7 linked regions of the Homo sapiens genome follow. The protein of the gene in region 2 purifies or fractionates together with the protein of the main gene of each other region. This does not show direct contact. Each region holds a gene or a part of one and is shown on either strand. Other genes may lie near its edges.

The links.
Region 1: the proteins of TNFRSF10D (region 2) and LRPPRC purify together in Homo sapiens (affinity purification with mass spectrometry; one large-scale study listed by BioGRID and IntAct). This does not show direct contact.
Region 3: the proteins of TNFRSF10D (region 2) and TKT purify together in Homo sapiens (co-immunoprecipitation; one large-scale study listed by IntAct). This does not show direct contact.
Region 4: the proteins of TNFRSF10D (region 2) and MYH10 purify together in Homo sapiens (affinity purification with mass spectrometry; one large-scale study listed by BioGRID and IntAct). This does not show direct contact.
Region 5: the proteins of TNFRSF10D (region 2) and WDR1 purify together in Homo sapiens (co-immunoprecipitation; one large-scale study listed by IntAct). This does not show direct contact.
Region 6: the proteins of TNFRSF10D (region 2) and PLS3 purify together in Homo sapiens (co-immunoprecipitation; one large-scale study listed by IntAct). This does not show direct contact.
Region 7: the proteins of TNFRSF10D (region 2) and SEPHS1 purify together in Homo sapiens (co-immunoprecipitation; one large-scale study listed by IntAct). This does not show direct contact.

What each region holds. Positions count from the first base shown.
Region 1 is NC_000002.12:43,989,490-43,992,989, reverse strand, and holds part of LRPPRC (leucine-rich PPR motif-containing protein, mitochondrial precursor), read left to right. Parts: intron 1-3,500. UniProt on the Homo sapiens protein: May play a role in RNA metabolism in both nuclei and mitochondria. In the nucleus binds to HNRPA1-associated poly(A) mRNAs and is part of nmRNP complexes at late stages of mRNA maturation which are possibly associated with nuclear mRNA export.
Region 2 is NC_000008.11:23,150,528-23,154,027, reverse strand, and holds part of TNFRSF10D (tumor necrosis factor receptor superfamily member 10D precursor), read left to right. Parts: intron 1-3,500. UniProt on the Homo sapiens protein: Receptor for the cytotoxic ligand TRAIL. Contains a truncated death domain and hence is not capable of inducing apoptosis but protects against TRAIL-mediated apoptosis. Reports are contradictory with regards to its ability to induce the NF-kappa-B pathway.
Region 3 is NC_000003.12:53,235,523-53,239,022, reverse strand, and holds part of TKT (transketolase), read left to right. Parts: intron 1-1,202; coding exon of another isoform or gene 1,203-1,226; intron 1,227-3,500. UniProt on the Homo sapiens protein: Catalyzes the transfer of a two-carbon ketol group from a ketose donor to an aldose acceptor, via a covalent intermediate with the cofactor thiamine pyrophosphate.
Region 4 is NC_000017.11:8,473,726-8,477,225, reverse strand, and holds the end of MYH10 (myosin-10), read left to right. Parts: intron 1-177; coding exon 178-350; intron 351-1,277; coding exon 1,278-1,422; 3' UTR 1,423-3,002; downstream 3,003-3,500. UniProt on the Homo sapiens protein: Cellular myosin that appears to play a role in cytokinesis, cell shape, and specialized functions such as secretion and capping. Involved with LARP6 in the stabilization of type I collagen mRNAs for CO1A1 and CO1A2.
Region 5 is NC_000004.12:10,082,300-10,085,799, forward strand, and holds part of WDR1 (WD repeat-containing protein 1), read right to left. Parts: intron 2,232-3,500; coding exon 2,144-2,231; intron 880-2,143; coding exon 723-879; intron 1-722.
Region 6 is NC_000023.11:115,564,174-115,567,673, forward strand, and holds part of PLS3 (plastin-3), read left to right. Parts: intron 1-3,500. UniProt on the Homo sapiens protein: Actin-bundling protein.
Region 7 is NC_000010.11:13,327,794-13,331,293, reverse strand, and holds part of SEPHS1 (selenide, water dikinase 1), read left to right. Parts: intron 1-1,505; coding exon 1,506-1,596; intron 1,597-2,843; coding exon 2,844-2,943; intron 2,944-3,500. UniProt on the Homo sapiens protein: Synthesizes selenophosphate from selenide and ATP.

The sequences.
Region 1 (3,500 bases), on a different chromosome or scaffold from region 2:
TTTTACTCGTGGTCCTTCTGTGTTTTCTCAACATTTTCATTCTCTTTTGTGACCTTTTCCATTTTTCAGGGCATTACTTACCTATCTGATGATGTTTCTCCCAGATATGGACCATCTACTACACATCCACCTGCTTGAACTATAGGTACTTCAGAGCCAACACAGCTCAAATTGGACCCCTCCTTCTTCTTTCATCTGTTCCTCTTGTGTTCCCTATTTTCGTGAATGTTGCTGTTTCTACCTGCCTTCCAGAAAGATCCTGGATATCTACATATTTGTTTTCCCATTCATCTCTCACTCCCTTCACCCCCCATTTATTGATTGCACAAATGATTAAGCCCTGTTAGATCTGCTTCATTTGGAATGCATCCCTTTTCCTCCAGCCCCTTCATCATTCCCTAGTCTCCCTGATAATTTGATCATGTCATTTTCCTGCTTACACTTAAGCATTGTGGTGGCTCCCATTGGGTCCAGAAGGAGATCCAGACTCTTTAGCACAGGTGCTTTATGAGCTGGAGTTGCCTCTGGAGCGTCAACTCTTCTGAGTTCCCTCCCATGGCATCCTGCGTTCTAGCCGTACCAGACTACTACTTTGAAGTGCTCTACAGCAGGGCTTCTCAAACTCTAGTGAGCATGATTGCCTGGGGCTCTCGTTAAACTGCAGATTCTGATTTTGTAGGTCTAGTGCTTGTCTGTGGATCTGTAAGGCTTTGATGGGCCATGTTGTATATTTCCTTGCCTTTGAGTGTAATGTTGACTCTTGGAATGTGTCTCCCCTTCCCCCTTAGTCAGGTGTCCCCCATCTCTGTTGAACCTTAACTTGACTGCCTCTCCCATTTGACTGGCTCCTTTCTTGTGCCTCCTCTTAGACCGTGTATCACTAAAGCACCCATTAACACTATGACGTGCACTCACCAACACTCTGGAGCTGGCTGTAAGTTGCTTGAAGGCAGATACTGTGTCTTACTCCTTTTGCTTTCCCTGGTGTTTAACTTTGTGGCATATAGTAGGTGTCAAATGTTTGTTGAGTGAATCAATGAAAATCTTAAGACATTGAAGAAGGAATATGGTAAACTGGAGGAGATTGAAGGGATGCTTAACCCACCCATGCAGTGCAGTGTGTCTACACAAATTCACCCTGAGCTTGATTTCCAGGAATGTCCTATTTGAGGACAAATGAGTATTAGTGAGTGAAATTATTAGACATTAGTAATCTGTTTTCAAAATTGTAGCACCAAGAAGTATATCCTTTTACTTTGTAATATGTGGTCTTGCTCTTCATTTTCCCATCTCAGTACATCTATTTTTCAAATAGATGCTTTCTGGAAAACCAGCTTTTACTCTGTTCTCTTTGAGGTGATAAATACTCTTGCTTTGTCACATACATTTTCCTTGCATTTCTGGATCAGAGCTGCTTTGTGTGTGTATTCTTTGTGTGATGGTTTTTAGCATAATACTTGTATACTTCAGAGGAAAGATAAGCTTTGAGCTCAATCTGTTTGGAAGTAGATCTAGACTAATGATTGGCCTAAAGGTGAAAATTACATATTGTTCTTTGATGGGATGGTGTGATTTTTATTTCTAAAGTTGGAAGAAAACTTTTAGAAAACTCTCATTTTAGAAAAATCTTCTGCAAATATTAAGAATCTGATGGGTCCGGCTGGGTACTATTGTTCACACCCATAATCCCAGCACTTTGGGAGGCCGAGGCGGGCAGATCACTTGAGGTCAGGAGTTTGAGACCAGCCTGGCCAACATGGTGAAATTCTGTCTCTTACTAAAAATACAAAAACAAAATTAGCAATGGTGGCGGGCGCCTGTAGTCCCAGCTACTCGGGAGGCTGAGGTGGGAGAATGGCATGAACCTGGGAGGCGGAGCTTGTAGTGAGCAGAGATCAGGCCACTGCACTCCAGCCTCAGTGACAGAGTGAGACCCCATCTCAAAAAAAAAAAAAAATAAAAGTATCTATACATAAGTTAGCCAGGCGTGGTGGCCCATGCCTGTAATCCCAGCTACTTGGGAGGCTGAGGCAGGAGAATTGCTTGAACCCGGGAGGTGGAGGTTGCAGTGAGCCGAGATCACGCCATTGCACTCCAGCCTGGGCTACGAAGCGAGACTCCATCTCAATTAAAAAAAAAAAAAAAAAGAACCTGATGGGTCCTTTGGGGTTCTGAAATCTGTAACATTCGGCCTCTGCTCTGTGAGTGTAGATTTATCAATCACAGGGCTAGACAGGCACATGTACAACTATTAGACGTGCTGTCCATAAGAGAAGAATATAATATTGTGGTATTTCAGAGAGAGGAGCAGTGCCATTTGTTTTATGGCAGGGGGACATTGAGTTTTAGAGGACACATGGTAGTGGATATTCAGAATGTTCCAAAAATAGAGAAGAGCGTGAAGAGACTTGGAGGCCGTTTATCCCGTGTAGCTGTGTGGGATGTGGTGGAAGTTGATTTCTTGAGGCTACCAAGATTGCTTAGAAGGTAGGTTAGTTGATGATTGGAAGCCGTTGGAGGATTTTAAGTACAGATTTTGACAAAGTTTATGTAGATTATAGGAACGTGGGGATGGAACAACACTGGTATTGCAAATTAGCAGTAATAGGCCTTCAACGAGGTAGTAAAGAACTGACGAAAAGATCCGTTTCTTGAGAGAAAGAGAACAGAAGATTGGTGAGAGTGTTAGCAGAATTAAGAAAAGTAGATTTGGGGATTAGGGTAAACAATGGTACCTTTAGAATAGATGCTGATTACTTTCTTTTTTTTTTGAGATGGAGTCTCGCTCTGCCACCCAGGCTGGAGTGTAACGGGGCCATCTCGGCTCACTGCAACCTCTGCCTCCCAGGTTCAAGCGATTCTCCCACCTCAGCCTCCCAAGTAGCTGGGACGACAGGCGCATGCCACCATGCCTGGCTAATTTTTGTATTTTTAGTAGAGATGGGGTTTTGCCATTGCCATGTTGGCCAGGCTGGTCTCGAAATCCTGACCTCAGGTGATCCACCACCTCAGCCTCCCAAAGTGCTGGGATTAAAGGCATGAGCCACCGCACCTGGCCTGATGTTTATTATTTTCAAAGTGTGTTTGTAAACATAACATCATACAAACATTTCAACTTCCGTGGGTTATTACAAATTAGGAAACAGGGTTAGAAGTATAATTTATTCAAGACCTCAAGTTGAGATTCAACTCCAGATACCGTGATTCCCGTTTCTGAAATGTTTTACATATGTTGCAACATATGTTACAAGTGTTTTACATATGTTACACATTTGATCTTGTCATTTTCCTGTTTACAGTTAACTGCCATGGTAGTTATCATTGGGTGCAGAATGAGGTCCAGACTGTTGTGTTTTAGATGGTGAAGGGATTACTTATGGACAAAAACATTTTTTAAAAGGCAATATATGATATAAACTTGGGATTTAAAGACTTTCACAGGTAAGTAAACATAGAAGATCTCAGAATGTATCTGGAAGGGATCTTCATAGATTCTGAAG
Region 2 (3,500 bases):
TATTCCATTGTGTCTATGTACTACATTTTCTTTACCTTTTCATCATCGATGGACACTTAGGTTGATTAATGTCTTGACCATTGTAAATAATGCTCCAATGCACATGGGAGGGAAGATACCTCTTTAACATACTGATGTCATTTCCTTTGGATGTATACACAATACTGGGATTGCTGGATCATATAGTTATTCTATGTTTTGTTTTTTGAGGAACCTCCATACTGTTTTCCATAATGGATGTACTAATCTCCATTCCCACCAACAGTGTACCAGTGTTCCTTTTTCTCCCCATCATCATCAACACTTGTTATCTTTTGTCTTTTTGGTAATAGCCATTTTTACAGGTGTGAAGTGGTATTTCATTGTGGTTTTGATTTGCATTTCCCTGATTAGTGATGTTGAGCATTTTTTTCATATACCTGTCGGCCACTTCTATGTCTTCTTTTTAGAAGTGTCTCTTCAGGTCCCTTGCCCATGCGTCCGTTTTAATTGGATTATTTGATTGCATACTATTGAGATGTTTGAGTTCCTGTGTATTTTGGATGTTAACCAAAATCTTGGATCTTTTGGATATTGATCTCTCATCCTGTATGTTGTCTCGTCACTCTGTTCATTGTTTCCTTTGTTGTGCAAAACCTTTCTAGTCTGATATAATCTCATCTGTCTATTTTTGCTTTTGTTGCCTGTGCTTTTGGGGTCATAGCCAAGAAATCAATGCCCACACCAACGTCATGAAGATTTTCCCCTATGTTTTCTTGTAGTAGTTTTACAATTTCAGGGCTTATGTTTAATCTTTAGTCCATGTTGAGTTGATTTTTACATATGATGTGAGATAAGGGTCTTATTTCATTCTTCTGCAGGTCAATATCTACTTTCCTCTACATCATTTATTGAAGAGGCTGTCCTTTCCCCATTTTGTGTTCTTGGTATCTGTCACAATCAGTTGACTGTAAATGCATTGATTTATATCTGGGTTCACTATTTCATTCCATCAGTTTATCTTCGTTTATGCCATTACTATTCAGTTTTGATTACTATACCTTTGTAATATATTTAAGAATCAGGTAGTATGATGCCTCCATCATTGTTCTTTTTGTTTGTTTTGCTTAAGATCACTTTGGCTATTTGAGGTCTTTTGTGGTTCCATACACATTTTAGATTTATTTTGTCTATTTTGGTAAAAAATGTCATTGGAATTTTAATAGGCATTGCATTGAATCTGTAGATCACTTTGGGTCATATGAACAATTAAGCAATATTGAGTTTTCTAATCCATGAACATGTACTGTCTTTCCATTTATTTTTGTTACTTTCCGTTTCTTTCATCAATATTTTACAGTTTTCACATCTTCCACCTCTGTCACAAATTTATTTAAAAGAGTTGCTGCCTTGACATCCATTTTTAGGCCCAATGTAAGTTGTTTAAAACCCAATCATACCACAGCATCTTTTGCCCAATTAATAATTCCTTTCCCTGTTCAATTGTTTTTGATCTAGCACATTTGTTCATCATCTCCCTGACCCCAAACCCAACACATCCCACAGGAGCTGACTACAATAAAACCTAATGGTTCACAGCAGAGCAGTGTGAACCTTCTTTGCAGGTGTTGTCTTCCACAATCCCTGTGGGAAAGCCTGGGGTATAATGCCCATGGATCTTTATAAAGGTGTAGTCCCACGGGTCCTCTCTCTCTGTCTCTTGCTCCCCACACACCGGTTAGTGTCCTCGGACTGGATAGCTCCCCACTTCCCGTAAGTGCTGCAAAGTGTGCTATCCTCTTCTCTCTGGAGTCTGTAAGTAATACACCACTTCTGTGTTTCCTGTGTTTTGTTGTGTTGCTTCCTCTGTGTTTTCCCTAATTGACACATCTGAACCTAACATCCTTCTCCATCTTGGCTCTCTTAAAGAGTGGCTGTCTCCTAAAGAGTAGAGATAACTTAAAACTGGACATAGGTCAGACAAGAGCCACCAGGTCTACTGCTAGTAAAAGTAATTGTCTTGTGGAAGGGACATGTACAAGATGAACACCCAATTAGGCATTAGACAGTCCACCGGGACAAATAAGTTTCCTGTGAACATCCATGATGAAATCTCCTGGATCCCCCCCAGGGCAAGGCTAGAATTTATAGCCACTCTACAGAGAGAAACCTCAAGACCAAATTAGAAAAAAATACAGCCACCACCTTGGTTAAATTTATTCCTAAGCATTTTTTTTGTAGCTATTATAAATGGGATTTTTCAGATAGTTTCTTGTCAGTGTATAAAAACACTACTGAATTTGTAAGTTAGGTTCATGTCTAACTTTATTTTACACTGATAACAATTTATCTTTGATCTCATAAAAAACTTGACACCTTTTCTTCTCCTGCCTTATTTTATGTTTTGTCATTATTTACGTCTTTTTATGTTGTGTATTCCTTAACAAATTGTATTAAGTATCATTTAAAAAAATACATTGGGCTTTTAACTTTTATAGTAATGATGTAAGTAATTTGTACACTATTATGATTGTATTAGAATATTCTGAACTTGACCATGTATTTAACCACCTAGTTTTATATTTTCGCATGGTTTTGTGTATCCAGTTAGTGTTCTGTTCTTTCAGATTGAATAACTCTCTTTAACATTTCTTGTAAGGCAATACATGCTAAAGATGAACTCCCCCCGTTTTTTTTTTTCTTTGTCTGATAAAGTCTTTACTGCTCTGCATTTCTAAAGGACAGGCTTGCCAGGTGTAGTATTCTTGGTTGGCAAGGAATTTTTCCTTTCTGTACTTTGTATGATTCCACTCTCTCCTGGCCTGTAGGTTTTCTGCTGAGAAGCCTTTGGTAGTTTTATAGGGGTTCCTTTGTACATTGCTTGTCTCTTGCTGGTTTCAAAATTCTCTTTGCCTTTGATGTTTGGGAATTTGTTTAAGATGTGTCTTGGTGAAGATCTCTTCATATTTATCTGTTAGGGGTTTTTTGGGCTTCATGAATGTGGATGTCCATTCCCATCCTGTTTTGGGACATTTTCTTTAATTATTTCTTTAATTACACTTTCTGTTCCTTTCACTTTCTCTGATGCTCCTTGGACCACCATAATGCATATATTGTTTTGCTTCACAGTAACCGTTGGTACTGTTGGCTTTCTTCCCTCTTTTTCATTCTTTATTTTTTTTTTCTTCCTGTGACTTGGTAATTTCAAATGATCTGTTTTCAAGCTCACTGATTCTTTCTTCCGATTAATCAACTCTGCTGTTGACATTCTCTGTGGAATTTTCTTAGTTCAGATATTGTGTTGTTGTTAATTTTAGAATTTCTGCTTTCTTCTTTATTATGTTGTCTGTGTATATTAAACTACTCATTTTGTTCATGTATTGTTTTCCTGACATGACTTAGTTGTCTATCCATATTCTCTAGTAGCTGACTGAGCTTCTGTAAGATGACTGTTTTCAAGTCTTTGTCAGGCTGTTGTAAATGTCTATTCCTTTCGGGTTGGTTACTTGTGCTTCATTTTG
Region 3 (3,500 bases), on a different chromosome or scaffold from region 2:
CAGTTATCTCCTGCTGGGCCCCTCCCACAACCAGTAGGAATTACGGGAGCTACAAGGTAAGATTTGGGTGGGGACCCAGAGCCTAACCATGTCAGTCACTCATCAGAAGGGTTCCTTTGCCCTTTGGGGGCTAGGCCCTGTGCTCAGTGCTCATGTGCTGTATTGGGTTCCACCTTTAAAAGCCCCCTGTGAGTTGGGTAGTGGTGTGAGAACCGTGACCCGTCTTACAGGTGAGGAAGCTGAGGCAAGATGCTGGCCTAGGCCATCCAGTTGGTGGTGGAGGTACCCAGGCTGCTCTTGGAGAGGCTGAGGGCACCACAGGAGCTCGGGGAGTCCTGTGGGCGGGAAGCCTCCTAGAGGAGGAAGGCCAGTGGGGCCAGCCCGCAGGGTGTGAGAAGGGCCCAGTTCTGCAGCTGATGGCATCTCCACTGCCCTGTCCTCCACTCCTGCAGCAGAAGTGCCATAGTGGGGTTCGGGAAGACTGTGGGTCCTTGAAGGACAGGAGGCTGCAGGGAGCACCTTCTGTGTGCAGGCCCTTCCCCAGGACTGGCTCTCCAAGGAGGCCTCACAGTCCCTTCCAGACCCCTTCAGGCCAGTGTCACCTGACCACAGTTTGCTTTCATTCCTTGGTGAGCCTTGGGGCAGGCTTGGCTACACCCAGAAGTGATTCACCATGAAGTAAAGAGAGAGAGACACACAAAGAATGAGATGCATGTTTAAGAGCATTTTATTTGGCAGAGAACCAGAGATGTGAGTTAATTATTCCCTACAGTTGCTGGAAATAATTCCCTGTGAAGGGGCATTTCCTGACCCTAACATAATGGAACAAGTCAGTGTAGGGAGAAGGAGTTTAGCTGGGTTCCCAGAAGCCAGGGTGGCTTGGGGCCAGGGTTGCCTGGAGCCTAGGCCCCTGACTGTACCTGGGGGAAGGGGCCAGGGCATCCAGGGATTATCATGTCAGGCCAGGCACCCGGAGGTAGCGTCTTGATAGAGCAAACTGGTCTCCACTCACTGTTTCTCCCTGCCCTCCTGTTTAAAAAGTACAGAATGATATTAAGAAATGAACGTTTTCCTTATTTTTTTATTTTTATTTTTTCTGAGATGGAGTCTCGCTCTGTCACCCAGGCTGGAGTGCAGTGGTACGATCTCGGCCCACTGCAACCTCCGCCTCCCGGGTTCAAGTGATTCTCCTCCTGCCTCAGCCTCCCGAGTAGCTGGGACTACAGGTACGTGCCACCACGCCTGGCTAATTTTTTGTATTTTTAGTAGAGACGGGCTTTCACCATGTTAGCCAGGATGGTCTCAATCTCCTGACCTTGTGATCTGCCCACCTCGGCCTCCCAAAGTGCTGGGATTACAGGCATGAGCCACTGCACCCAACCAATGTTTTCCTTATTCTTAGCACACTGCCTCCCACCCCCAATTTAAATCTAATGATGTATTTTGTCCATGTTATCATGAGAAAAGCTTACAAATCTGTAATCCCAGTGTGTGTGTGTGTGTGTGTGTGTGTGTGTGTGTGTGTGTATAATATAAAATCTAGTATTACACTTTAAACCAAGCCTTCTATCATGAGCTTTTTCTCCTGATATTAACAGTGGAGAGCTGGTTTTTTTTGTTTTGTTTTGTTTTTTTGAGATGGAGTCTTGCTCTGTCACCCAGGCTGGAGTGCAGTGGTGCCATCTTAGCTCACTGCAACCTCCGCCTCCTGGGTTCAAGTAATTCTCCTGCCTCAGCTTCCCGAGTAGCTGGGATTACAGACGCGCACCACCACACTCAGCTAATTTTTATATATTTAGTAGAGACGGGGTTTCATGACGTTGGCCAGGATGGTCAGTCTCAAACTCCTGACCTCAGGTCATCTCCCTACTTCAGCCTCCCAGAGTGCTGGGATTACAGGCGTGAGCCACTGCACACATCCTGAGAGCTGGTTTTAATGATCACATAATATTCTGTTTTATGGAGATGCTATAATCCATCTAGCCAGTCCTTTGTTGTTGGACACGTAAGGTAGTTTCCAAATCGTTCTACAACAAATGTCGACCTTCTGTTTAGGGTTCCCTCTCTTCAAATTAGTTCATGAATGGATGTTTGCAGCCCCCCACCCCTAACTCTAACAGCTCAGGCAATACCAAGCCTCAGGGTTAGCCCAGGCTCCTGTAGGCCCCTTCCCTGTTCACAACCCCTTCCTTGGCATCTCCTCGGGACCTCAGCACGCCCTCTGACCTGAGCCTGATGGCCCTGTAGGGCTTAGCCTTGTCCCTAGTCTCGAAGCCAAAGCTGTGCTGGGCCTCCAGTGCTAGCCTCGGTTCGACTTCCCTGGAAGTGGGTGTGGGCTTGGGGTGGCAGCCAGTTGCCTTCCCTGGAATCCCTTTCTGGGAAGTCGAGTTGGCTTCTCTGGCTCAGCCCCATCATGTGGCCCCTTTCTGGAGCTGCTGTGCCAGACCAGAGTCCCTGCAGGGTCTCTGGGCCCCCTCAAAACCTACAGGGGAAAGAGGAGGCAAGGCTGGGACAGGATAGGGCCTCTGAAGTGTGGGCCTGAGGCTTTGTCCTTCTGGCCATGGTACCCCACAGGGGCACCACCTCCTGTGGTGGAGGCCACAGAAGAGCAGTATGAGGCAGGAGAGGCTGCAGGGAGTGCTCCTGGCCTGCTGGCATGTGGAAGTGCTGAGTCATGCTGACAGCTCCGTGGCTAGCTGTCCCAGCCTCTTCCTGCTGCCCCTGCCTTGGCCCTGCGGCAGGGAGGCCTGGAGGCTTGGACTGCTGAGCATGCAGCCGGGTTGAGGGCCTTTTCCTGCAGGAGCAGGAGGGCAGCCATGTCCCCTCTGAGCCCAACCAGGCACCAGCCTCATTTCCTAGGGCTACACAGCTAGACACTGGGCAGGGTAAGGGGAGGTCCCCAAGTCCTACCACTCCTCACCCTACTTGCATGCCTGCACGGCAAGGAGCGGACAGTCTAGGCTACAGTCAGACCTGCGTTTGAATCCTGGCTCAGCAACTTCCTGACAGCGCGACCTTCAGACAAGTCCTGTCTGTTGCTGCCGTCCCTCTGCTACCCCCATCCCCTCACATCTCCCAGGCCGGGAACGTTCTGTTTGCTGGGTAATTTATCCCAAGTTCAGTGTTCTTTTTAACGTCTCACTGTCTTGAAAAGATCACAGTTGCCTGTGTTGAGGGGAGGAGAGGGCCCCTGTGGTAGAGAAAGAGCCAGGTGCAGCTTCAGTCTTGGGGTCAAGAGCTAGTCTTGGAAGCTTGGGGAGAGCCTGTCCCAGGAAGCGCCTGGTCCTCAAGTGCCCTCTGCTCTATCCTCCCCAGAGCCCTCTTGCTCCAGGGTGTTGCCTAGAGTGCCTCAGGCCTCCTTGGCCCACCTCCCTCCTCCGGGCAGAAGCAGAGCTTGGTTCCCAAGGTTCCCCTTTCCCACTGGCCCACCCAGCCAGTCCCAAGGCCTCCTCCAACCTCTGGTTCACAGCGGGGTCTGTCCCCTGCAGCAGGTGGCTCAA
Region 4 (3,500 bases), on a different chromosome or scaffold from region 2:
AGAGCGGCAGGCCGGTTACAGAGCCTCCGACCAGCCCCCAGGCACGCGTGTACATCCGTGTACACGCGTGCTCACAAGGGTAACAGGCAGAGCCCCACACTGCCACGCTCGGGGTACAGAGAGGCCGACACTGGATTCACCAGTTTGGTTTGTTTTGGTTCATGTACCCTCCCCAAGATGGAGAAGGCCAACGCTCGGATGAAGCAGCTTAAACGCCAGCTGGAGGAAGCAGAAGAAGAAGCGACGCGTGCCAACGCATCTCGGCGTAAACTCCAGCGGGAACTGGATGATGCCACCGAGGCCAACGAGGGCCTGAGCCGCGAGGTCAGCACCCTGAAGAACCGGCTGAGGTGAGCAGGCATGCGGCCCCGAGCTGACAGGCAGCTGCTTTGTGGGTTAGCTTAGGCTCGGGGTGCAGCTGGTCAGAGGAAGTTTACTTAGATCCATACCCAGTGACCCATTCTTTCTCCCGAACCACTTCATTTAAGATTTCTGACCTTTATAGTCGTCCTTGGGGAGAATAAAAGAGGAGGCGGCCCTATTCATTGCCAGTCACTAGAGGACCACACTAATCCACCACACCAGGCTGGAGCTGGGTCAGGCATCCATCCCTGTCCAGATATCCATTAGTGAAGTGAGCTCCCAGCCTCTCTTAAAAAGCAGGGCAGGAGCTCCTCCTGGGACCTGGTGCCATCAGCCCTCCTCAGCACCGTCCTCCTCACCACAATGGATCTGCTCTGTACCAGTGAGAGGGCAGAGCGTGAGAGAGCTACAGCTGAAGTCTCTGCCCCAGAAGACCAGGTCGGCGGAGGTTTCAGCACATCTGGCCAATGGGCAGATTTGGTGCATACCCTGCTTTTATACAGCCATCAAACTAAGCATGGTTTCTACATTTTTAAATGGTTATAAAAACGCCGAAACAAAGAATATGCAACAGAGTCCCTATGTGGCCCACTTTGCTATCTGGCTGATTCCCTGGTTAGCAGGTAGAGCTTGGCCTTAATCCGTCTTCCTTACCATTTCCATCACACAGTCCTAGGCTGAATCAAGTCCTCCCCAGTTCTCCAAGGACCCTGCTTCGCGTACTCTGCAGGCAGGGTTGTGGGAGAGGCAGAAAAGCACGCAGTCCTTCCCCATCGTACCGCCACCCCCACAAGGTCGTGTGTCCGAGGAGGGGGTGCAAGGGGAAGGTTCCGTGGCATTGAGTGGTTGAACATATTGACAGCCATGTGCTCCTGTCTGTTTACCCACACACATCTGCTTCCTGTGTTCTCCAGGCGGGGTGGCCCCATCAGCTTCTCTTCCAGCCGATCTGGCCGGCGCCAGCTGCACCTTGAAGGAGCTTCCCTGGAGCTCTCCGACGATGACACAGAAAGTAAGACCAGTGATGTCAACGAGACGCAGCCACCCCAGTCAGAGTAAAGTTGCAGGAAGCCAGAGGAGGCAATACAGTGGGACAGTTAGGAATGCACCCGGGGCCTCCTGCAGATTTCGGAAATTGGCAAGCTACGGGATTCCTTCCTGAAAGATCAACTGTGTCTTAAGGCTCTCCAGCCTATGCATACTGTATCCTGCTTCAGACTTAGGTACAATTGCTCCCCTTTTTATATATAGACACACACAGGACACATATATTAAACAGATTGTTTCATCATTGCATCTATTTTCCATATAGTCATCAAGAGACCATTTTATAAAACATGGTAAGACCCTTTTTAAAACAAACTCCAGGCCCTTGGTTGCGGGTCGCTGGGTTATTGGGGCAGCGCCGTGGTCGTCACTCAGTCGCTCTGCATGCTCTCTGTCATACAGACAGGTAACCTAGTTCTGTGTTCACGTGGCCCCCGACTCCTCAGCCACATCAAGTCTCCTAGACCACTGTGGACTCTAAACTGCACTTGTCTCTCTCATTTCCTTCAAATAATGATCAATGCTATTTCAGTGAGCAAACTGTGAAAGGGGCTTTGGAAAGAGTAGGAGGGGTGGGCTGGATCGGAAGCAACACCCATTTGGGGTTACCATGTCCATCCCCCAAGGGGGGCCCTGCCCCTCGAGTCGATGGTGTCCCGCATCTACTCATGTGAACTGGCCTTGGCGAGGGCTGGTCTGTGCATAGAAGGGATAGTGGCCACACTGCAGCTGAGGCCCCAGGTGGCAGCCATGGATCATGTAGACTTCCAGATGGTCTCCCGAACCGCCTGGCTCTGCCGGCGCCCTCCTCACGTCAGGAGCAAGCAGCCGTGGACCCCTAAGCCGAGCTGGTGGAAGGCCCCTCCCCATCGCCAGCCGGGCCCTCATGCTGACCTTGCAAATTCAGCCGCTGCTTTGAGCCCAAAATGGGAATATTGGTTTTGTGTCCGAGGCTTGTTCCAAGTTTGTCAATGAGGTTTATGGAGCCTCCAGAACAGATGCCATCTTCCTGAATGTTGACATGCCAGTGGGTGTGACTCCTTCATTTTTCCTTCTCCCTTCCCTTTGGACAGTGTTACAGTGAACACTTAGCATCCTGTTTTTGGTTGGTAGTTAAGCAAACTGACATTACGGAAAGTGCCTTAGACACTACAGTACTAAGACAATGTTGAATATATCATTCGCCTCTATAACAATTTAATGTATTCAGTTTTGACTGTGCTTCATATCATGTACCTCTCTAGTCAAAGTGGTATTACAGACATTCAGTGACAATGAATCAGTGTTAATTCTAAATCCTTGATCCTCTGCAATGTGCTTGAAAACACAAACCTTTTGGGTTAAAAGCTTTAACATCTATTAGGAAGAATTTGTCCTGTGGGTTTGGAATCTTGGATTTTCCCCCTTTATGAACTGTACTGGCTGTTGACCACCAGACACCTGACCGCAAATATCTTTTCTTGTATTCCCATATTTCTAGACAATGATTTTTGTAAGACAATAAATTTATTCATTATAGATATTTGCGCCTGCTCTGTTTACTTGAAGAAAAAAGCACCCGTGGAGAATAAAGAGACCTCAATAAACAAGAATAATCATGTGAACGTGGAATCTGTTTTCTCACCTTCTGTTCTCGATTTCCCATCTGTGATCTGACTGGAGGGTGGGTGCTACACACCAACTTCAAATGATGGCGCCAGGCCCTTTTTGCTGAGGGCGCTGTCTCCCAGGTCAGACGACAGAATAATTCTCAGGCCAGTCCTGGCTCCAACTCTTGTTCCTGCCAGTGCCTCACAGGATGCACACGCACTAGGAAGGGAAAGACCACCCAAAGGCAGGAGCTGGCCCACCTGTCAAGGGAGTGATTTAGGAGGGCTCTGGTCACCAGCCAATGAAGCTCACTGCTGGGTTAGGACATTTTCAGGGGTCCAGGACATTTCAGGCTGCATTTTCAGGCAGACACGCATTGAAGATGCTTTTGGAGGATTCAGTGATGAGGCCAAGGGCAGCCTCTCTAGTGCGGGCCAACTAGGATGAGAGAAATACTAGGGCAGCACAGAATCAAACAGAGAATGCCGATTTCTTGTTCC
Region 5 (3,500 bases), on a different chromosome or scaffold from region 2:
AGGCCCCAGGAGTCCCCATCTCCCAGGCAACACGACTTAGGCAGGACTACCGGGTGACAAAGGGGTCTACACAAGAAATGTAGGGCCAGAGGAGGGGTCAGACCTGGGCATGGGGACACTGGATGTGCAGTGGCCTCGTCAGGTCCTGGAACATTTCTCTTTCAAGTCCCTCCAACTGCATTTAGGACTTCAGATCACTTGCAAACTGCTACTCTCCTAGCTCCACTGACTGCCAATCAAAGGCCCAAGACCAAAAACAAACAAGACATTGTCTTTTAACCAGATCACTGTGTGCCCATCTCACCCTTGAGCAGAAGGGGAATGCTGTCTTGTACTCAGCACCTGCCCTGTGCCAGGCTCACCTAATCCACAACAGCCTGAGGCAGGCTCCACTGTACCCGCCTTTACTGATGAGGAAAGGGACACAGGGAGAGACCGCAGCAGGTTCCTGGAGAACAGGGCTGTGATCTGCTGCCCCTGCTTCCAGGGCAGAGTCCACACCTGGTCGTTGTCTGTGGGCAAGAGCATTACCCAGACCACCTGGATCTGTAACACAGTGCTGGGCTCAGGGCCCAACAACAGGAGAACAATGCTGGGGACGGGGTGGGAGAGATGAAAGGAGCAAGTGAGGCGTCCTCCAGAACAGTAACTGCTGGAGGGCACAAGCCCTCCGAGGGGAGCTGAGGCTCATCCGGAACCCCCGCAGACCCGAGTGCTCTCACCTGTAGTCCCGCAGCATGAGGCTGGTGTACCGCACGGTGTCGTCCATGCTGCAGCTGATGAGCTGCCCCGACTCATCCACGGTCATCCTGGACACCTGGTTCGTGTGGCCTTTCCCAGCGAAGGAGTCGTTCTCCCCCGTCTCTGAATCCCAGTAATGTAGGGTGGGGTTAAGGAAAAGCCCGGCTCCCAGGACTGCTGGGTGTTCTCAGGTGTGGCTTCAGTCCTAAGATTCTCCATTTACATCAAGAATGAGAATCTCGCCGCAAACGGACATAACCATTCCCCCTGGGAAGCCTGCAGTGTCCACTGTTGACACGTTCTTAGGAAGGGGTATCTGAAGTGTGGGTGCACCACACAGGGATTGGGATGAGGCAGAAAGGGAGCCGTGCTGAAGGCCTACTGGGGACCAGCAAGCTGGGGAGGCTCCGGCGTCTCCTCTGCTACTAGTTATCGGGTAGGCGCAACCCTCTAACCCCACATTTCTTTATGTTTTGGGGGCAGAGGGTGGCATGTCTGCCCTCCTCTCCCAGCCTGGGGGGACCTCCTTGGGTCCCGGACAGTCCCTTTGGGAGGTACAGCACATGCGGACCAGAGCTGTCCACACAAAAGGCAGTCTCCAACACAGCACGGTGCTCAGGGAGGGCAGCAGAACAACGCACAGCAGGTGCCATCATCAGCAACGTGTGTGGGCATCCCTGCCCAGGCACTCTGCAGATGGTGGCTCCAAGGTTCAAGACACACCCGTGAGCAGGGTGTCACCAGCCCCAGGCCATGCAGGAAAAACACAACAGAAGCCCCCATCATCAGGGAGAAACCAGGACTCATTTAAAGAAACCCAGACAAGGACTTATAAGGGGGACACAAACACCTCCAGGGAACATCACCGAAGGGCCACAAGGCACCTCGCAGGAGCTCCAGCCCTGGCTCTGTGGACCACAGGCTGCATGACTCTGGGGCGGGCACATCAGCTCTCTGGGCTCTGGTTTTCCTATTTTTAAAACAAGGGGACCCAACGTAAGGGTGTCCAGGTGCTTGTGAATTCTAGGAATCAAGAAACCCACCATGTGGAGTAGGGCCAAGGCTGGCGCCAGGTGCCATTGGCAGAGGTAGTGGCAGCCCAAGCTCAGGGCCGTTAAGCCACACTCTCAGGGTTGCACGACAAGAAGGGACTGATCAGGTCGGAGCCGCCCATGGCTTTTCCTCAGCATAAGCCCTGGAGTTGCCAAGGACAACTCCAGGGGACAGTTGCCTGTCCCCATGTACAGACAGGCCACCCCTAGAAGCCACACGGGTCAGAAGAGCGTGTGGCTGTGGCTGCAGCTGGAGCCACCTGGCTGGCCTGGCCTCTGGCATCATGGGAACAGGAAATTCCCCCCTAGAGCCAGCGGCTCCGGAGCCAGCTCTTTGAGTCAAAGGATATTAATGTGTCCGTCGTGGCTCCCAGAGTAAATGTAGGACTTGCCGCCGTTTTTATGCACCGTCAGACACTGGATCGATTTACTGTGACCCTGTGAAGGAGACACACTGGGCGGGTAAGCTGATGACACACTGCCCTGCCCTCTGCCACCCGCTTTCCACCAACGAAGCTTCTGGGTAATGGAGGGGGCAGACGCCCCTCAATCCATGGCAGTGCAGGTGCTCTGAGGCCCCAGTAGCCCCAGCTGCCCGAATGCACGGCCCACGAGCCCTAAGAAACCTTTCCAAAGCTACCCAGTCACCTACAGACCCTGCCCTTCATTCCCCTCCCTCCAAGGTACCTAACCCAGACCTGGGCCCAGACCTGCGTCTAACCAAGGCCCAGCACGTCAGCACCTGAGCACCTAACGTGTGCAGACACGTGGCCTGCACCCCGCCGACCAGCACCCGTCGCGGGGAGCCACAAGGGGGTCGGTCCAGGAGGACTTCGCTGGCCACATTCGCTTCAGGCCCTGGTTTGTGAGGTTTCTTCTCTCTCCCTGCCCAGGAGTGCTGGCCCTGCTGAGGGCAGGGGTCTCTCTGATCACTGTAAAAGCCCAAGGCTGTCCGTGAACGCTGACGCTCCTACCCTAACCTCCCTGACTGCTGCAGTGGAGGGCACACAAGGCTGGTCCACAACCAGACAGCTGCTTCCAGAGGGCGGCGTTTAGCCCCCTCCATATCTGAGCCTGAGACAAAAATAACAGCTAGGGTGCAGGCTCCTCATGCCTTTCTCCTGCAAAGGGAGGCCAGCTCCTGGCTGGCCCCTCTCCTCTGAGCTCAGGGCTTTTCCGCAGGAATTCTTGATCTCTGTGGTATGCCACATGTTGCCACAATATGGCATAGATCTTTGGATGCAGGTCTCCTTGGAGACAGGTACACAGTTACCAGTGGGACTGGAGAATGGGCAACGAATGCAGCTACTTTCATCTTTTCCACAGAGACGTGGGGAAAAATCATCACATGCCCCAGTAAGAGACACTGAGCTGGGCGGCCTCCTTCCAATGTGGCATCCCACCAGTCCCTTACAGCGCGGACCTCAGACCAGCACAGCCCCCACCAGCAGGGCTCAGGCCCACCTTCCTGCCAAATCAGAACGTGCACTCGGCAAGAGGCCAAGAGACTTGTGTGCAGGCTCAATGCCTTGAACTTACCAGAAACACTCCTAGCCATGCCCAGATGCCCACGGGTGTTCCTTCTGGAGGCCTGCAAGCTCCTGCTGCCCTGAGACTTCCCTGTAAACTTAGTGCCTCTGGGGGCGTCAGCAGCCAGCGCTTTTTAGAGCTCCCAGGTGGTTCTAACACGCAGCCTGGGCTGATACC
Region 6 (3,500 bases), on a different chromosome or scaffold from region 2:
AGCAGATAGCAACCCCTTTACCTGAGGTGGGGAGCTATTAATAAATAAATAACACTTTGCCTTGACTTAATACAGACGATCAACATTGAAGTCCAAAGTCTCTAGTCTGATGTAACCATTTAGATTCAATTGATAAAAATGACTAGGCTTATGGCATTTTGGGTAGAAGGATTAATTATAACTAGTGAGTAATAATTTGGGTGAGATTAAGCCTCTTCCACAAGTGGTTACACGCACATTAGACTTTGACTGTGACTGTTTATACTGGCAGAATGTCAGTATCTAGGGCACTATCAGAAACCCAATGAGATTTTTCTCCCAGGAGAACAGAATTCTGTTACTGAAAATAAAAGGGCAGCTTGGCCATGGTGCTTGAGCACCAAAGTGGTTCTTTTTGGTGACACTGAGAGGGTACAAGAAGAAAGTCCATTTGCCATTATCCCATATTCTGTTTTAGGCATTATTTCTACTTGGATTTTCATGAAATGTACTGACAGTGTTCTTAGCACATATGATAAATTCATGAGTTTGCTGTTGTGTTTGATCTAGCATAATCTATGTGGAATGTATAAGCTGAACTGTTTCTTTTTTGATGTTTGGTACAGATTATGAAAGTAGCTGGTATAAAATAAAATTTGAAAATGAATATCTCTCAATACATGACAACAATGGGGTATCTGTTTTTAGAATCATGTTGTCTTTGGTCATATGGCAATTTTTCTTTTGGTGAAGAGTGATCCAGAAGGCAAAATTTTTGATCTGTGAAAATAATACAACTCATTTAGAAGAAGTCAGCTGGGTCATGTTTTGAGTCTGTATTATTTTAGACAGTGATATACCATATAATGTATATTCAGTGTGTTGGAGGTTTCAAAGCTTTTTGGATACATTACAATGTTGGAAGATTTTTATATACCAGTGGTCATGACTAGCTGATTTTAGTTATGAGAGCGCTTTGGTTAAAGTTATGGAAACAGTCTAATCGTGAAATGTCAGTCTTAGAAGATCTGATCATACTTGGGCCAATTTATTTTAGTTACGGAGGTGAGACAATTTCAGAAGATTCACGATAAATTTAATAATACCAAATTTTGCCTTAGTCTTGACACTTGGAAGATAAATATTAGTGAGTATAAACTGTTTTAGGGATGAAGAAGTATTGTTAGTATACAAAAATGAAAATACTAATTATTTTAGCATGGGTCTTTTAGTCCTTTGCAGTCTGGACAGATAGATTATCTTAAGTAAATCATTGAACTTGCCCTCAGAGGAATTAGATTCTAGATAGTGCTCTGCCATTGACTCATAATTTGACCTTCGGAAAGTCATTTAAAATTATTATATTAATAACTAATTGAGTACATACATGTGCCAGACACCATTCATGCTTTTGTTTATAAAAAGAGAGGATTGCTCAAGCTTTTTGGTTTGCTGGGTTTTATTTTTTCAAATATTCATAATCTGGCTTATTTCACTTATCAGTTGACTTTTCAAACTTTGATGCAATTGCATTGATCCAAGCTAAATACTTTGTTGGCAAATTGATGACTATTCAGGAAAGTGATCACCAGTGGGTTATTCCATGACTAATGTTAGTTCTTTAAAATAAAGAGGTGCCATTTATTTAATTCCTTGACAGGGATTTTTGGTGCATTAAGCCTACTGATTTTATAATATGAGAAACCTTACATTTTCTTAAAAGTTTAGAAACGTATTTGATAATAAGGAGGTAGTGTTGTTTATTGGAAAAGCATTGAGCATAGAATTTAGGGTCTTTTAGTCCTTTGCAGTCTGGACAGATAGATGATCTTAAGTAACTCATTGAAATTTTCTGTGGTCATATCTGGGTTTCACTTTATTTTTAAGCCATGTGATTCCAATCTACATATTTCACAGGCATGGTAAAAGGATAAGTGAGAAACGTGAAGCCTTGGCTTTTAAGCAGACAGGTGCTATATAAATTCAAAGTACTGCAGCAGTGTATCATAGAAACACTAAAGCTTTAACAAGAGTTTACAGAAATGGCAGGGTTCTCATCACGTAAGTCTTGCCACATTTTTCTTTGTCTGTAAAAGTTCTGCACCCATCCAATTTTTACAAGCAAAGGAAAAATAAAGCCAGACATATTATAATGAAAAATAAGAGACTAGGTTGATAACAATAGAATAAAAACCTACATGTGATACTTTCTTCTTCTTCTTTTGTTTTGTTCTGTTTTGTTTTGTTTTAAAGACGGAGTCTTGCTTTGTCGCCCAGGCTGGAGTGGTGCAGCGGCCGTGATCTCGGCTCACTGCAAGCTCCTCCTCCCGGGTTCAGGCCATTCTCCTGCCTCAGCCTCCCGAGTAGCTGGGACTACAGGCGCCCGCCACTGTGCCCAGCTAGTTTTTTTGTATTTTTAGTAGAGACGGGGTTTCACCGTGGTCTCGATCTCCTGACCTCGTGATCCGCCCGCCTCGGCCTCCCAAAGTGCTGGGATTACAGGCGTGAGCCACCGCGCCCGGCCCGTTTTGTTTTGTTTTGTTTTGAGATGGAGTCTCGCTCTGTCGCCCAGGCTGGAATGCAATGGCGTGATCTCAGCCCACTGCAACCTCTGCCTCCGGGTTCAAGTGATTCTCGTGCCTCAGCCTCCTGAGTAGCTGGGATTACAGGCGCGTACCACCACGCCTGGCTAATTTTTGTATTTTTAGTAGAAATGGGGTTTCACCATGTTGGTCAGGCTGGTCTAGAATTCCTGACCTTGTGATCCGCCCGCCTTGGCCTCCCAGAGTGCTGGGATTACAGGCATGAGCCACCGCGCCCAGCCCATGTGATACTTTCTTCTATTTCTTACCTCAAATATTGTGCAAGGTAGCCCGTTAAAGCCATTAATTGGGTGGTGTTTTTCCCCTTTTTAACTAACTACTGAGTAGAATTTTGGTCTTCAGTGGTAATTGTTACAGAGTCCATTGGCTTACCATACCTCATTTTTAGTTTTGTGATTGCCCATAATGGGAGGTTTCGTGTAAAAAACCTCATAAAAAATCAAGTTTTTCCTCCTCATAATTGCAGTCTAAAGGAGGACAACACGCAGGTCTGGGAAACTGCATAGTGGAAGAGATAATCTATACATTTAAGTAGCATGCCATGAATAACACAAAAAATGGCCTGGCACGGTGGCTCACATCTGTCATCCCAACACTTTGGGAGGCCGAGGTGGGTGGATCACTTCAGGCCAGGAGACCAGCCTAGCCAACATGGTGAAACCCCGTCTCTACTAAAATACAAAAACTTAGCCAAGCACGGTGGCACGGGCTTGTAGTCCCAGCTACCCAAGAGGCTGAGGTGGGAGGATTGCTTGAGCCTGGGAGGCGGAGGTTACAGTGAGCCGAGATTGCGCCATTGCACTCCAAGCCTGGGCTACCGAGTGAGACCCCATCTCAAAAGAAAAACAGAAAAACAAACAAACAAACAAAAAAAAACAGAAAATGTGGGAAGTTAAGTTGAAAAATAAACACCTTCAA
Region 7 (3,500 bases), on a different chromosome or scaffold from region 2:
TGTTTATTGCAGCACTATTCACAATAGCTAAGACTTGGAACCAACTCAAATGTCCATCAATGATAGACTGGATTAAGAAAATGTGGCACATACACACCGTGGAATACTACGCAGCCGTAAAAAAGGATGAGTTCATGTACTTTGCAGGGAGATGGATGAAGCTGGAAACCATCATTCTAAGCAAACTATCAAAAGGACAGAAAACCAAACGCCGCATGTTCTCACTCATAGGTGGGAGTTGAACAATGAGAACACTTGGACACAGGGCGGGTAACATCACACACCAGGGCCTGTCGGGGGTAGGGGGCTGGGGGAGGGATAGCATTAGGAGATATACCTAATGTAAAGGACGGGTTGATGGGTACAGCAAACCAACATGGCACATGTATACCTATGTATCAAACCTGCATGTTGTGTACATGTACCCTAGAACTTAAAGTATAATTTTAAAAAATTTAAAAAAAAAGAACATCAACTTTATGGTACAACTGAGTCTGAATTCGAAGACATTTATGTCTTCAGGTCTGGTTTTTGGAAAACAAGTTTCTTGCGTAGTCACAGAATTCTATTTTTCAAAGCTGAGAGTGGATACAAATGGTATAGGTTGAGCTGGGGAGCTGGGTGTTGGTATTGAAGTCTGTGGCCCTGGCTTTGTTTTCATCGACTTGGGTGAGTACCTGAGGAGGCCAGCATCGGGGAATGGAACGATTCAGGAGCTCAGCTGCTGAAGCTGCGAAAGGCACAACTCTCAGACCTGCTTCCTGGTAGTGTGAATGCAAGTCTGGTAGATGTTTCATTCGGGCACCAGTTGTCATCTTTTAGAGGTGCCTTTTTAGTATTGCCTTCTGTCTCTAAGACAGGGACCACCAAGGCGTCTGGGTGCCAGGTAGGAAACTCACCATCAGTCAGTCTGAGTTTGAGAACCTGGAGGCAGAAATCACCAAGACATTAGACCCACAGATTGCCTGCAAATCCACCAAACCCCTGGGCCGAAAAATCCGTCCTGAGTCTCTAGCATATCAGTGATCATAAAGAAGCACTCTCTGTTTCAGAAGCTTTTGAATGCTAGTGGGTCTGTAGTGAAAATTACACATACACTCGTATGTGGTCGAGGGGAAATCTGGGCCTGATGAAACGTTTGAAGGCTAAATGTTTCATTCTTTTTAAAAATATGTATATTATTTTTGAAATGGGGTCCTTGTTGTGTTGCCCAGGCTGGTCCTGAACTCCTGGGCTCAAGTGATCCTCCCCTCTTGACCTCTCAAAGTGCTGGGGTTACAGAAATGAGCCACTGTGTCCAGCCTGATGGCTGAATGTTTTGTTCCAGCAATAGCCTCAGTAGCAGGTTGCAAGGCTCTGTCCCATACATGCTGGTAGTTGGCTTCAATTTAAGTAAATGCAAAGGCAGATATATTTTTGACAGATTATTCCTTCTCTTGTGTTAATAACAATGAGCTCATCTCCTTGGTTAGTTTGACTAGAACATGCCCTTTTCTTTTCTTCAGGCCAGACAATGCAGTGCCAGGGGACGTGCTGGTGCTGACAAAACCCCTGGGGACACAGGTGGCAGTGGCTGTGCACCAGTGGCTGGATATCGTGAGTAAACCACTGCTGTGATGGGAGGGAGGGGAATGGTACGTTTGCAGGTAATTTTTGTTGGAGGATTTGGGAAATGAGGTTTTTTAGTTTCATATCCAGGGAGTTAATATTAGTCAAGTCCTTAAAGAAATCCTAGGAATTGTTCATAGTCTTTAAATAACAGTTTTGCATATTGAATGCTTGATTGCAGTAGGTAAGCCCCAGCTTGGAGCTTTAAGATTTTTCTGTAAAGAATTTGCTCGGCAGGGGGTTAGCTTTGTTTACTTGGCCCTGAGATAGCTTCGTCTTTCATGTCTTAAACATCACTAAGAAATAATATGAAGGAGAATTGGTGGAAGGCGTAGTGTTTGGGGTATAAATAAAACCAGGGTTATTGACAGTTTAAATTGTTTTATGCAGTTTTTGGTTGTTTTTGTTTGGTAGTTTTGTCTTTTTAAACTGATGAGTAACTCAGAACATTTTGATAAATAATTCTCTTGTGCAGAATGAATCTATCTATAATGAGGATATGTCTTGTGAGTCATTTTTCCAGTGAGCTATAATCATACTTTAAGATTGGTTTTCTTCATTGCCGTAACAACTCACAAATTAATAAGATTGGGGTATATTCTCACATATCATGGTGCATTTAATTTCTACAACTATCATCTGAAACTACCAGTCCTGAGAAACAGTTGAAAGAGAATAATCAATAATTACACGTCTTTCATCAACCTGGTATATCTTAGCTTGATGTCGCAGGGTAGAGAAATTCTCTAAGGCTGCCACGTTCTTTAGCAGTTTTTCCCTCCTCCCCCTGTGATGGGGAGCAGAGCAGAAGGCCACTGCGGGGATGTTGCGCAGAGGTGCCTTCCAGCCCCACCTCCCAGGCCTGAGCTAGCAGGGAGCTGGAAGCAGGTGAGGCAGGGAGTGTCACGGATGGGGGAGCCCTTCTCCACTAGCAGGACACTACACTGCATGTACAGCAGTGCCGCCGTGTGTCCCGCTAGACTACACATACCCAATAAATCACAGCACTTAATTACAGAAATGTGGGATGAGAACAGAAAAGACGCCATGCTGACAGGTCTAATGGACACCTAAAATACTATCCACAGAAAAACCAGAGTTGGAAAATTCAGTTTTCTGAATTAAAGTCCCTAGAAGTTAAATAAGAAAAAGTTGCTGTTTTTCTCAGTTGCTAGAAGTAAAGATTAATCACATTTTCCTCTCTTTCTCTCCCTCACCTACATTTCTATTATCAGCCTGAGAAATGGAATAAGATTAAACTAGTGGTCACCCAAGAAGATGTAGAGCTGGCCTACCAGGAGGCGATGATGAACATGGCGAGGCTCAACAGGACAGGTATGACAGGTGGGAAGGGCGCTTCGGTCCCAGGGGTCCAAGACAGTAAATGTCTTAGGCTTTTCTGGCCACATACTGTCTCAGGGTAGGTGGCCAGATTTTTGGCCAGTGACTACAGACCGTCTTCTCCTGGTACCAGGTTGGCATTCCATAGATCACTGCAGATGGTCCCTGACTTACAGTGCTTTATAATTAAGAAGGAAGTCCTAACTTCTGACATACCAGAGGAACTATTTCTAGAAAGCGTTTGTGTGGGTTACCTATGTAAGATTTGGAAGCAAACCATTCAGAATGGAAATTTAGAAAGTTTAAGATACTGGAGCTATTTCCAGAACATAACCTTGGAAGTCTAGAAGTGCCCCCACTCCCACCCATCCCCTGCATTCCTGCTTAGGTGTAACCACTGAATTTTGTGTTTATTTTCTTGCATTTTAGAATATTTTTATTGCACAGCCCTTGTGTTCTTAAGCAGCAAATTAGTTTTGCATTTTTTTTACTTGTTTTGTTCACCATTGTTCCTGAGAGTCTCCTTGTTATATGTAGCTGTAGTAGATTCC